2 separate regions of the Homo sapiens genome follow, and region 2 is linked to region 1. Evidence: fine-mapped expression QTL. A gene starts in region 1. The other region holds a variant in brackets. All regions are shown on one strand. Distances are between the middles of the regions. Region 1 holds the start of ACOXL (acyl-CoA oxidase like). Region 2 overlaps BCL2L11 (BCL2 like 11).

The links. PIP is the estimated chance that this variant, and not a neighbour inherited with it, causes the effect.
Region 2: its variant is the best candidate, but not a certain one, in a credible set for the expression of ACOXL in stomach (GTEx, PIP 0.60).

The regions. Positions count from the first base shown.
Region 1 is chr2:110,729,932-110,735,455 of GRCh38, forward strand. ACOXL (acyl-CoA oxidase like) reads left to right here and starts at 2,642. Exons shown (of 18, transcript NM_001142807.4): 1 at 2,642-2,843. It overlaps LOC124906064 (a long non-coding RNA gene), which reads right to left and starts at 2,494. Exons shown (of 3, transcript XR_007087181.1): 1 at 2,423-2,494; 2 at 1,905-1,973; 3 at 1,430-1,704.
Region 2 is chr2:111,124,154-111,129,153 of GRCh38, forward strand. All of the region lies in intron 2 of BCL2L11 (BCL2 like 11), which reads left to right. Among named protein-coding and RNA genes, the nearest start is that of BCL2L11, 5.7 kb to the left of the region's middle. The variant CT/C (reference allele first, on the strand shown) is at 2,862.

The DNA of each region.
Region 1 (5,524 bases):
GCCTCTTCATAAAAGGGACCATTTTCAATTTTGGTCAACAACAATGCTTTGGTCGACAGCATCCTCCTTGCCCCTCCCAGCCTCTAAGCCAATGTACCTATTTTAGTTTTTTATTTAATCAGCAACATTCTTTTAGTATCTTCTATGATTGGCTACGTAACAAATGACCCTCAAAAAAAATCTTAGTGGTTGGCCGGGTGCGGTGGCTCATGCCTGTAAACCCAGCACTTCGGGAGGTCGAGGTGGGTGGATCACAATCACCTGAGGTCAGGAGTTTGAGACCAGCCTGGCCAACATGGTGAAACCGTGTCTCCACTAAAAATACAAAAAATTGCCAGGCTTGGTGGCGGGCACCTGTAATCCCAGCTACTCAGGAGGCTGAGACAGGAGAATCGCTTGAACCCAGGAGGCAGAGGTTGCAGTGAGCCAAGATCATGCCATTGCACTCCAGCCTGGGCAACAAGAGCAAAACTCCACGTCAAGAAACAACAACAACAACAACAAAAATCTTAGTGGCTTCTAAGAACAGAGGCCTTTCTTTTTTCTCACTCAAGCAAACACTCACTTGGAAGTTAACTTAGTAACCTATCTTTTCAGTTTATAGGTCTCCGGATCAAGAGGAGCCACATCCTGACTTGATGCAAGGACCACTCTGTATCCCCCAGGGGCCTCAGACTTGATGTTGTGGAGGTGTGGGGCTTTGGCTGCTTCCCTGGAAGGATGGAGAGTATATTTTGCCTGTGGAAGGGAGAGTGTGACCAGAAGGGCAGATTGAATAGTCACTAGCTCTGCTTACAGATGATTTTGGGTGTTGACCTCCTGGGCATGTCCAGGGTGGTACCTCCCTTCCCCCATCGAGACAGGAGTGAGCTGCTTTGTCCAGTGGATTGTGAGTAGAAGTTATGTGTGTCTCTTCCAGCTGGAAGCTTTAAAAGCCAGTGTGGCCACACAATCATGGCTGTTCTGTCAGCCAGGACCTGGACCGAGGGGACATGGAACAGAACCCCCAGGTAGCATGAGTGAGAAATAAACTCTTGTCTTTTTAGGCCCTAAGATTTGAGGAAGTGTATGTGAAGTCGTTTCGGGGTTGTTTGTTACCACTACACTATTTTGGCTGATATAGAAGGAAATACTCCTCTTCTGCTTTGCACAGGGTGGTGCTTGGAGCTGCAGCATCCATCTTACAACTGGTAGAAGACAAGTTAAAAAAAAAAAGGTAACGATTACATATAGAGAAAGGATGGCGGATGGTGGAGCAGAAAGATGCAAAGGACCTGGGTCCCCAGGGTAGAGCCATCAAATTCACCCCTGGGGCTTTCCTACCACCAAGCTTCCTGTGATGTGAGAAAACAAAGCCCCTTTTATCATGGATGACTGGGTATTATTACTCGCAGCTGCACAGGTGTGGTAGACAGAGGAATGACTCGCCAAAGGTGCTCATGTTTTAATCCCTAGTACCGGAGAGTGTGTTTCTGATATGGCAAAATGGACATTGCTGGTGTGATTAAAGTATGGATCTTGTGGTGGGAAGATTATTCCCATTGACCATGGATTATTCCCATGGGTCCCATGTAAACAAGTCCAAGGGAGGCAAGAAGGTCAAAGTCAGTAGAAGATGGAACGATGAAAGCAGAGCTTGAAGTGATGCATTTTGAAGACAGACGAAGGGGCCAGGAGCTAAGAAATGCAGGCAGCCTCTAGGAGCTAGTAAAGACAAGGAAATGCATTTTTCCCTGGAGCTGTGAGAAGGAACCCAGCTCTGCCAACACCTTGATTTTAACCCTGTAAGTCCTATTTTGGACTTCTGACTTCCAGAAATGTAAGAGAATAAATTGGTGCTATCTTAAGCCACTCACTTTGTGGGAATTTGTTACTGGAAACGAATACAGATGGCATCCACTAACCTCACGACAGCAGACCACACCATCATCTCCCCAGCAAAGTAGCCTCTGGAAGGGAACGGCTAACATTTCCTTGAGTATTTAAAAGGAGAATCAACAAGGTATATGAGAATTAGGGAGCAGAAAGGAAGGAACATTTTCCACTTAGGTTATAACTCATTTTCCTCCAGCCACAACAAAAAAAGGAGTGTCCTGGGAAATGAGTATCGTGTTCCGGTCGATCACCTCGTCATGAATGCAGCTTCCAGCTACCCTGGACTGCAGTGCTGTAGACCTGGGACGCCTTTAGATTACCGTGATATTAGAGTTCACAGTAATGCCCAGTGCGGGGAAGAGGTGAGATACAGCTGAGGAGGGGCCAGAGCTGGAGCCAGGCTATCTTGGGTCGTGGGGGTCAGGCAAAGTGGCTGGCCGGGAGATCTGCTGAGTGGGTCAGCCGGTCAGTCCTGAGCAGCCGGGCCTCTGGTGCCCAGGTCCACGTGACTGGCACCCTTTCTAGGGGTCTAGTACTTGTTTCTTACGGCTCACAAATCTTGAGGGACAGTTGATAACTGGAGGGTAGAGTTTTCGCTTCCTCGGAAGGGCAAGGGGAGGCCACCGTAGAAGCGCCCGCTCGCGCCGGACCTCCCGCCCGGGAAGCCAGGGCAGGGCGGGGCCGGGGAGGGAGGGGAGAGGAAGGTGAGGAGGGAGGAGACGGGCCGGGAGGGGTGGAGAGGGAGAGGGCGTGCGCCTGGGGCCTCACCTGCTGGGAGCTGGAGGAGGCGCGGAGCGAAGCCGGCCCTGCCAGCCACGCGGAGAAGCAGAGGCAGGTGAGCGCGATGCAGCCGGCGCCGGGTCTGGGGCTCGGGGACTCCTCCCTGCACCGCTACCTGGACGGCGACTTCTGGAGCCTCAAGAACGAGCTGCGCGGACTCCTCGGCGGCGCCCGCTCTTCCGGCAAAGGTACCGCGCTGCGGCCGTCGCCCCTGCCCGCGCCCCCGAAGCCGCCGAGCGTGTCCCCTCGGTCCCCGGAGCGTCGCTGCGGACAACGCCCTGGCGAGGGCGAGGTGGGGTGTGCGCCGCGCCTGAGAGGCGGGTCCCTGCCTCGCCGCAGGTGACGGGCTCCCCTCCCCAGGTGTGTGGGCGCAGCCGGCCGCCGCCGACCTCTTCGGCCCCCTGAGAGGTGCCCTCTCCTCCCGAGCTCCCTCCCCCACGAAGAGTCGGGTGCAGGGCTGGGCCCCGCGGTGACAGGCGCGGTGTCTACGAAGACCGTGTGGCTGGAAGATCGGCCTTGCTGGTTTGTTGAACCTGTTTCTTGAGTCCCCGCCCCGCGATGTCCCACCCTTGGTGGGGAGAAGGGGACAGAAAACCGCGATGGGATGGGCGCACAGGGATGGAGTGGCCCTGTCCAGGGCGTGTCTGGGCGTCGGGGTGGGACAGGCTTACAGGACCCCCTCGGAGTGCAGGTGTGCGGAATGGGCAGCTTCAGCGGGGCGGTTTGGTTATAAGAAGAACTCAGGTCCTCGATGTCATCCGATGCCAGGACAGCCCTGAGAAGCAGGCAGAGGGTTGAGTGCTTGAGCTGCACTGGAGATAGAGAGATGGTTCAGTCACCGGACAGTCAGGACCAGAACTCGGCATTCGTGTCTCCTGTGGGCTCTCTTTCTCATACCCATTTCAAGCAGTCTGAAAAGCCCAGTTGGAGGCATGCTTTGGAGTTCTAGCTTAAGAAAGGCCCTATTAAAAATGTCAGTATGTGCCCGTGGAGGATTAATTGGTTAGCCATGCCCACTTAGCCCTCGTTTAATTTATTTTGCGGAAATGAGAGGGAAGGAGATGGCTTGAGTGAACGTCAGGCTGTCCTTGGAGAATCTGGGGTTCCTGCACTGAGGTTACCTAGTGGGGAGTTGGGGGCGTTTGAAAGTTGAAAAGTGAGAAGTGTGGGATGGTGGGTATATCCATCAGTGTCTCGCCGACTTCTCTTTCCCTCTCTCTCATACATAGTTCTTTAAGTTATGGTTCTCAAAGTGTGGTACAGGGAGCCCTGGGGGGACCCAAGAGCATTTCAGGCGGTTCATGAGTACAAACTGTTTTTATAGTAATACAAAAAAAGTTATTAGCTTTTTCACTCTCATTCTCTCACTAATGTACAGTGGCAGTTTCCAGAGACCACATGATGTGTAGTATTCCAGCAGAAAAAATATAGAAGCAGACATGAGAATACAGCTGCTTTCTATTAAGACAGACAGTAAAGGGATTTGTAAAAATATAGAACGATGCTACTCTTCTTGCTAACTTTTTTTGTTTTGGAAAATAGTTATTTTCATAAAATACACTAATAGATTTATTAGTTATTTTCAAATGAATTAATAAACATTTGAAAACTTTTCTGTTTTAATTTCTAATACGGGAAATATCAGTGGATATAACCCACCCAAATAAAAGCTCTTTGGGGACCTCATAATTTTTTTTTTTTGAGACGGAGTCTGACTCTGTTGTCCAGGCTGGAGTGCTGTGGTGTGATCTCAGCTCACTGCAACCTCCACCTCCTGGGTTCAAGCGATTCTCCTGTCTCAGCCTCCGGAGTAGCTGAGATTACAGGCACCCACCACCACGCCTGGCTAATTTTTTGTATTTTTAGTAGAGATGGGGTTTCACCGTGTTGGCCAGGCTGGTCTTGAACTTCTGACCTCAAGCGATCCGCCTGCCTCGGTCTCCCAAAGTGCTGGGACCTCATAATTCTTAACAGTGCAAAGAGTTCCTAAAATCAATGTTTGTGAACGGCTGCTTTAAGTCATACTGAGTTCAGTCGCATCTGATTAGACACACATCCCCTCCTATATTCCTCAGTCTTTTCAGTTTGTTCCTGGGCTATCACCTCTTTGTCTTTCAGTTTAGATAACTGCAGTTTAAAAGACGGAACAAAATTGTAATAACCAAACTACTGATTTGAGGCAAGCAGAAGGGACTTCCTTGTGAATTCCATAGGGACAGAGGAAAGGCATGCCTGGATAAGGGGTCCAGTGTGGCAGTTTATTTCCTGTGTGACCATTGTCCTGGATTTTTTTTTCCCCCTTATTGACTTACATTTGTTCATCTACAGAATGCAGATAATATCAATGCTGCTGTGTTATGAAGCTTGAATGAAAAACTGTTGCGTGGGCATGGAGTAAACACTGGTTGTGGTGGGATACCAAAACACACTTGCACGCAAAGGGAAAAGCAAAAATCCCATTACCCTGACAAACACTTTTCCATTCTTTCCAGTTCTTGTTTATTTACTTTATAGTTCAGAGTTGTAGTAATGGCATGAACAACATTTCATATTTTTTCCCCAAATGGTTAAAGATTCTGATATCTATCTATTTGAAAGTTCATATTGTACTATCAGATTTTACCTTAGCCCATGTTAGAAGATGGCGATCTTGATTTCTGGATGTTTTAACATTCTCCTAATGTAAAATGTTATAGAACATTAGGAGATGAGAAATAAAACTTCCTCCTCTCTGAGGCAATGCCAGATCTCCTGTGGCTTGTCCCCACCTTACCCCAAACAGGTCTTTGCAGTTAAAGTAGGTGTAGGGGAGAGGGTTGTGGCAGCGTAGTGGTGAGTGCTGTGTGTACATAGTGAGAAGTTTGTACAG
Region 2 (5,000 bases), 390 kb after region 1:
GGTAAGAGGCAGTTGACGTGTGGATGGTTGAATCTGCTTGAAGGCTGTGTGTGGCATTTAAAATCCCCTTTTAAAACCCCGTAACTGATTTATTCCATCTTTAGATGGGAATGGAGGATGTGTCAAACTATCAAACCAACTTTTTTTTTTTTTTTTGAGATGAGTCTTGCTCTGTCGCCCAGGCTGGAGTGCAGTGGTGCAATCTCAGCTCACCGCAAGCTCCACCTCCCGGGTTCAAGCAATTCTCCTACCTCAGCCTCCAGAGTAGCTGGGACTACAGGCGCGTGCCACCACGCCCAGCTAATTTTTTCTATTTTTGGTAGAGATGGGGTTTCACCGTGTTAGCCAGGATGGTCTCAATCTCCTGACCTTGTAATCTGCCTGTCTCAGCCTCCCAAAGTGCTGGGATTACAGGCGTGAGCCACCGCGCATGGCCCACATCAACATTTTTACAAAGTTACTAACTTTTGTGGCAGTGATGAGTTGAGGTCCAAACATTAGCTTTCAGGTCTGTCTTCATTAAGCTAAAGTGTGTTTTAACCACCAGGCTTTACATAGTAATGACATTTTGCTTGAAAGGGAACTGATCATTTACAGAAAATAGCTTAATAATCAAAAGTGTAAAGAAAGATGACAATCATTTTTGAAAATAACACTTTTAAAAAAATGAACTAGTTCATGAAAGCAGTACCAACATAGAACCATGAAAATGGTTTGTTTTCTGCCTAAATTCCTCTTTGTGCTTATTGCTCAGAGGGTTTGGACATAGTACTAATCAGATTAGGTTGTAGGTTTTTATTTCAGGGATTAAAGGCAGTAGTAGGGTTTGAACCAAGAGTGGCTAACATAAATACCACAGAGGCCCACAGCAAAATCATGGAAGGAACTGACCTGGTGGAGACTGGTAAATTGGAGAGTATTTGCCCCTTCTATGTTTGGGCCACACCTAATTGTGGCTGTGAGGGCATGTGGTCTCAGGGTGGGTTTTCCTATATTGCAAGATAACCTAGGAATGCAAAATTGATGCCAGATACCCTGTTTCAACATTGACAGCTGATTCAGATTTTGAAAACATTGTACAAGCTGAAAAGAAACATCTGCAGACTTGATTTGGCCCTTGAACCTACAGCATGTGACTTTGGGTACATACTTTGGGTAACCTTGGTGAGGGGCTGAGTCTGTGTTGATCGACTTGCTGTTCCCCACCAATGGAAAAGGTTCATGTCTTGATCAGTAGTCAATCACATTGACCATTTGTCCAGATTAGCTTGCCATACATGAACAAGATAGAAGTAAGTTGGTAGAGTTATCAATTAGGAAACCCAGTACAGAGTCTATTATAATTTAGATTGTACCTCATGATGAAGGCTAACTCAACAAACCCATCAGAACAGACACTGGAACAAAATGACATTTCTAAATACCATCCAGCTCTGTCTTCATAGGCTTCAGTGAGGTAAATCAGGCAGGCCTTTGCCCATGTTATAGAATTGGAAAGAACCTCAGAGTGGTGGTCACTTGTCAGAGGTTGGGCACACCTGTGAGGTGGTGGGGAGAAATGACAGACATCCCAGCAGCTACACATGCTGGCTGCACGTCTCTTGCCAAATGCCAGGAGGTAATTTTTTAGGGTCCCTCCTTAGGGAAAGGGGCTGGAAGTTTTATTATTGCTGTTACTACTGCTCGTGAACTCATTTCAGCCTTAGAAGTTCTTGGCTTGTAGTTTTTGTTGTACTCATGAAAATGCTCCCCCATATATATGATCATTCTCGCTTACTATAACATCCTTGCTTACTAAATGAGTTAACAGGGCTTTATGGTGTGTATCGTGAAACACACGTGCATTAAAGACCCTCTGGAAGGTATTAGCTTTTCACACTTTCACAACAAAAGCTTCACACTTGTGGTTATTAAGCTATTTTCTCTAACCAGTTCCCTTTCAAGCAAAATGCATACATTGGTCTCTGTAGGTGATGGGTTAATGCATGGAAATAGTTTCTCCTTCCCTGGAACTGGGAATAGTGGGTGAGATAGTGTATTTTTTAATGTAAAGACAGGCACAAATGCTTTTTTTGTTGATAAATACTATTTTACAAGCTAATTATAAGTTAAGCACTGTTACTTGAGATGAAATATACAGGGCTTCAAAGATCATAATCTAAATAATTATGCACAGCTAATGGTTATACCTGTGAAGTAAAGTAGTGGATCCTGAGGTGTAATTTTATAGTATTAGCTGCATTTCAGTAGATGGTGTGATGAAGAGTTTAATGCATAGGATTAAATGAGAAGTTACGAGGAGTTTGTTTAAAGTTAATGTACCGAGGTAAGTTTTCAGTGTTAAGTTTTTGGGAGATTTGTTTTGGGAGAGGATGAGTTGGGGTTGGGGGAGGAAAGGACTTAGCCAGATGTGAGTTTCTTAAATTGAAGCATAAAATTTACAATTTATGTAGTCCATAATTTTCTCTGGACATTCTACAGTCTTAGTTCATGCCTGAAGACCACTGAAATAATGCTGAGTTGATAAGTGGTTCTCTTGACTTTGTTTAGTATTCTTTACTCAACCCTATCCATGAAGTTCTTCAATGAAGCTTTTGATAATTTATTGCAAAATACATTTTCCACAAAGAAGTCATTATGATTGGTTTGAACTAGTGGAACACAAATGTGAGGTTATAAAGAGGTTCGCCTTAGCCAGGGGCTCCTTTAGCTGCAAAGCAGTTTTTTGCTCAGCAACTTGGGGTAGAGATCAGTGTGTCTTGAAGTTTTGTTTTGCAAAACTTTGTTCTAATGAGAAAGTCAAGTCTTAGGAGGAATGTATAGTAGTTGAGTGTTTGTATTAACACTGTTTTCATATTTTC[CT/C]TTTATGTCTCTGATTTTTCTGAAGACAAGTTCAAGGAATATATTTCTCTGTGGGGCAACAGATACAGTTTTTTCACTTTTCCTCAATTTTAGTCTCCTTACACTCTGGGAGGATTAACTTGACAAATGATACCTTAGTGAATAACTGATTATTTTTATCAAAATCACTCACATGTGTTGGTTTACTGAGTGCCTTTTTGGATGAGTGTTTTATGCCATATGTGTTTTTAATGGAAATTAAAGTGTAGTCAGTACACTAAAGTGTAGTCAGTACAATTGGAAATAAGAGTTGAGAAAAGTCAGGATATGGAGGAATGCTCCCTAGTGTCATGTTAGTAAATGTCTTAAATTTTATACTTGTTCCCTGGCACATTGGAATTCACAGATGGGAGTTAATGGCTTTCTTTTTTTTTTTTTTTTTTTCCTCAGCGTCTTGTGGGTACTTCTCTTATAGCTGGTACTTGTCTGACCCCTCCTTTAGTTTGTGAGCTCCCTGGGCGGGGAATAATGGCCTGCAGATGCTAGCGAGTGCCTGACAAAGAGGAGAAGCCCAGGAGATGTTGAGAGTCAGTCCAGCTCTGCCTGTTAGCCTTTCAGACAAATAAAGTTGAAGAAGGCAGGTAGCAAGAAAAAGATCCTGACCTCTGCTCTGCCAAAGTGTTTTTAATTACCTGGATCTAGCTGTAAGGTTTGCCACGTAGTGGTGACAGCTGAGGTCTAGCTCAGCACTACTCAGCAGGGAAGCCACACATGCATTAAGCACTTGACATAGGACTAGTCTGAACTGAGTTGTGCTGTCATTATTGATACACACTGGATTTTGAGGAGACAAAAAAGAATGCAAAATAGTTTAATTGTTTTCATATGGGTTACATGTTGAAATGGTGTTTTAAATATATAGGTTAAATAAAATATAAACTTGTATTGCAGTTAAACACAAAGCGTAAAATTTACCATCTGAACCATTTATTTCTAAGTGTACTGTTCAGTAGTGTTAAGTGCACTTATTTTGTTGTGCGGCCAATCTCCAGAACTTCTTCACCTTGCAAAACAGAAATTCTGTACTCATTAAACAACTCCCCATTTCCCCCTCCCCCCAGCTTCTGACAACCACCATTCTATTTTCTGTCTATTAATTTGACAACTTCAGATACCTTATATAAGTGAAATTTATATAGTATTTGCTCTTCCATGACAGGCTTATTTCACTTAGCGTAATGTCGTCAGGGTTCATTTATCTTGCAACATGTCAGAATTTCCTTCCTTTTTAAGGCTGAAGGTTGTTCCAGTGTGTGTATATCACATACTTCATTTATCCATTCATCCATCAGGAGATACTTGGGTTGCTTCCACTTTTTGGCTATTGTGAGTAGTGCTGCTATGAACATGGGTATGCAAATATCTTTTGGGGGATTCTGCTTTGAATTTTTTTGGATATATACTTGGAAGTGGAATTGCTGGATCATATGGTAATTCTATTTTTAATTTTTTGGGGAACCATCATGCTGTTCTCCATAGAGGCTGTGCCATTTTACATTCCCACCAACAGGGCACAAGGGTTCCAGTTTCTCCACATACTTACCAACACTTTTTTTTTTTTTTTTTTAACAGTAGTCATCCTAGAGGATATAGGTGATCTTTCACTGTGCTTTGGATTTATATTTACTGGCTTAGATTTGTATGGCCACCACCATAGTCAAGATACAGAACAACTCAACCACAAGGATTTCTCATGATACCTTTTTATAGCCACAGCCACCTCTCTCCCTCTTCCTTGAGCATTTTGTCATATGGTCATTGGTGATTAAATAAAATGTATTTTAATATTGACTTTCTCTGTTTCTTTCTACCTTTTTAAACATGGCTACTAGAAAAATGCACAATTAGATTTGTGGCTGGTGTTCTGTTTCATCTAAACAGGCTGGCCTCACAGAGGAGCTGGAGTGTGCAGTGCTGCTCTAGCAAGCCAGGCTTGACTCTTCCCACTCAGGGCACATCACTTCCATGAAGCTTACTCCTTGGGTTGTTTGGTTGACTTAGGAGAATGGAAGTGATTAGCAGAATCTTGTAAGCATTTTAAACATTAAATGAGCATTGTAAACAGCGGCATTCTTCAGGCAAATACAGTTTTGTTTTAC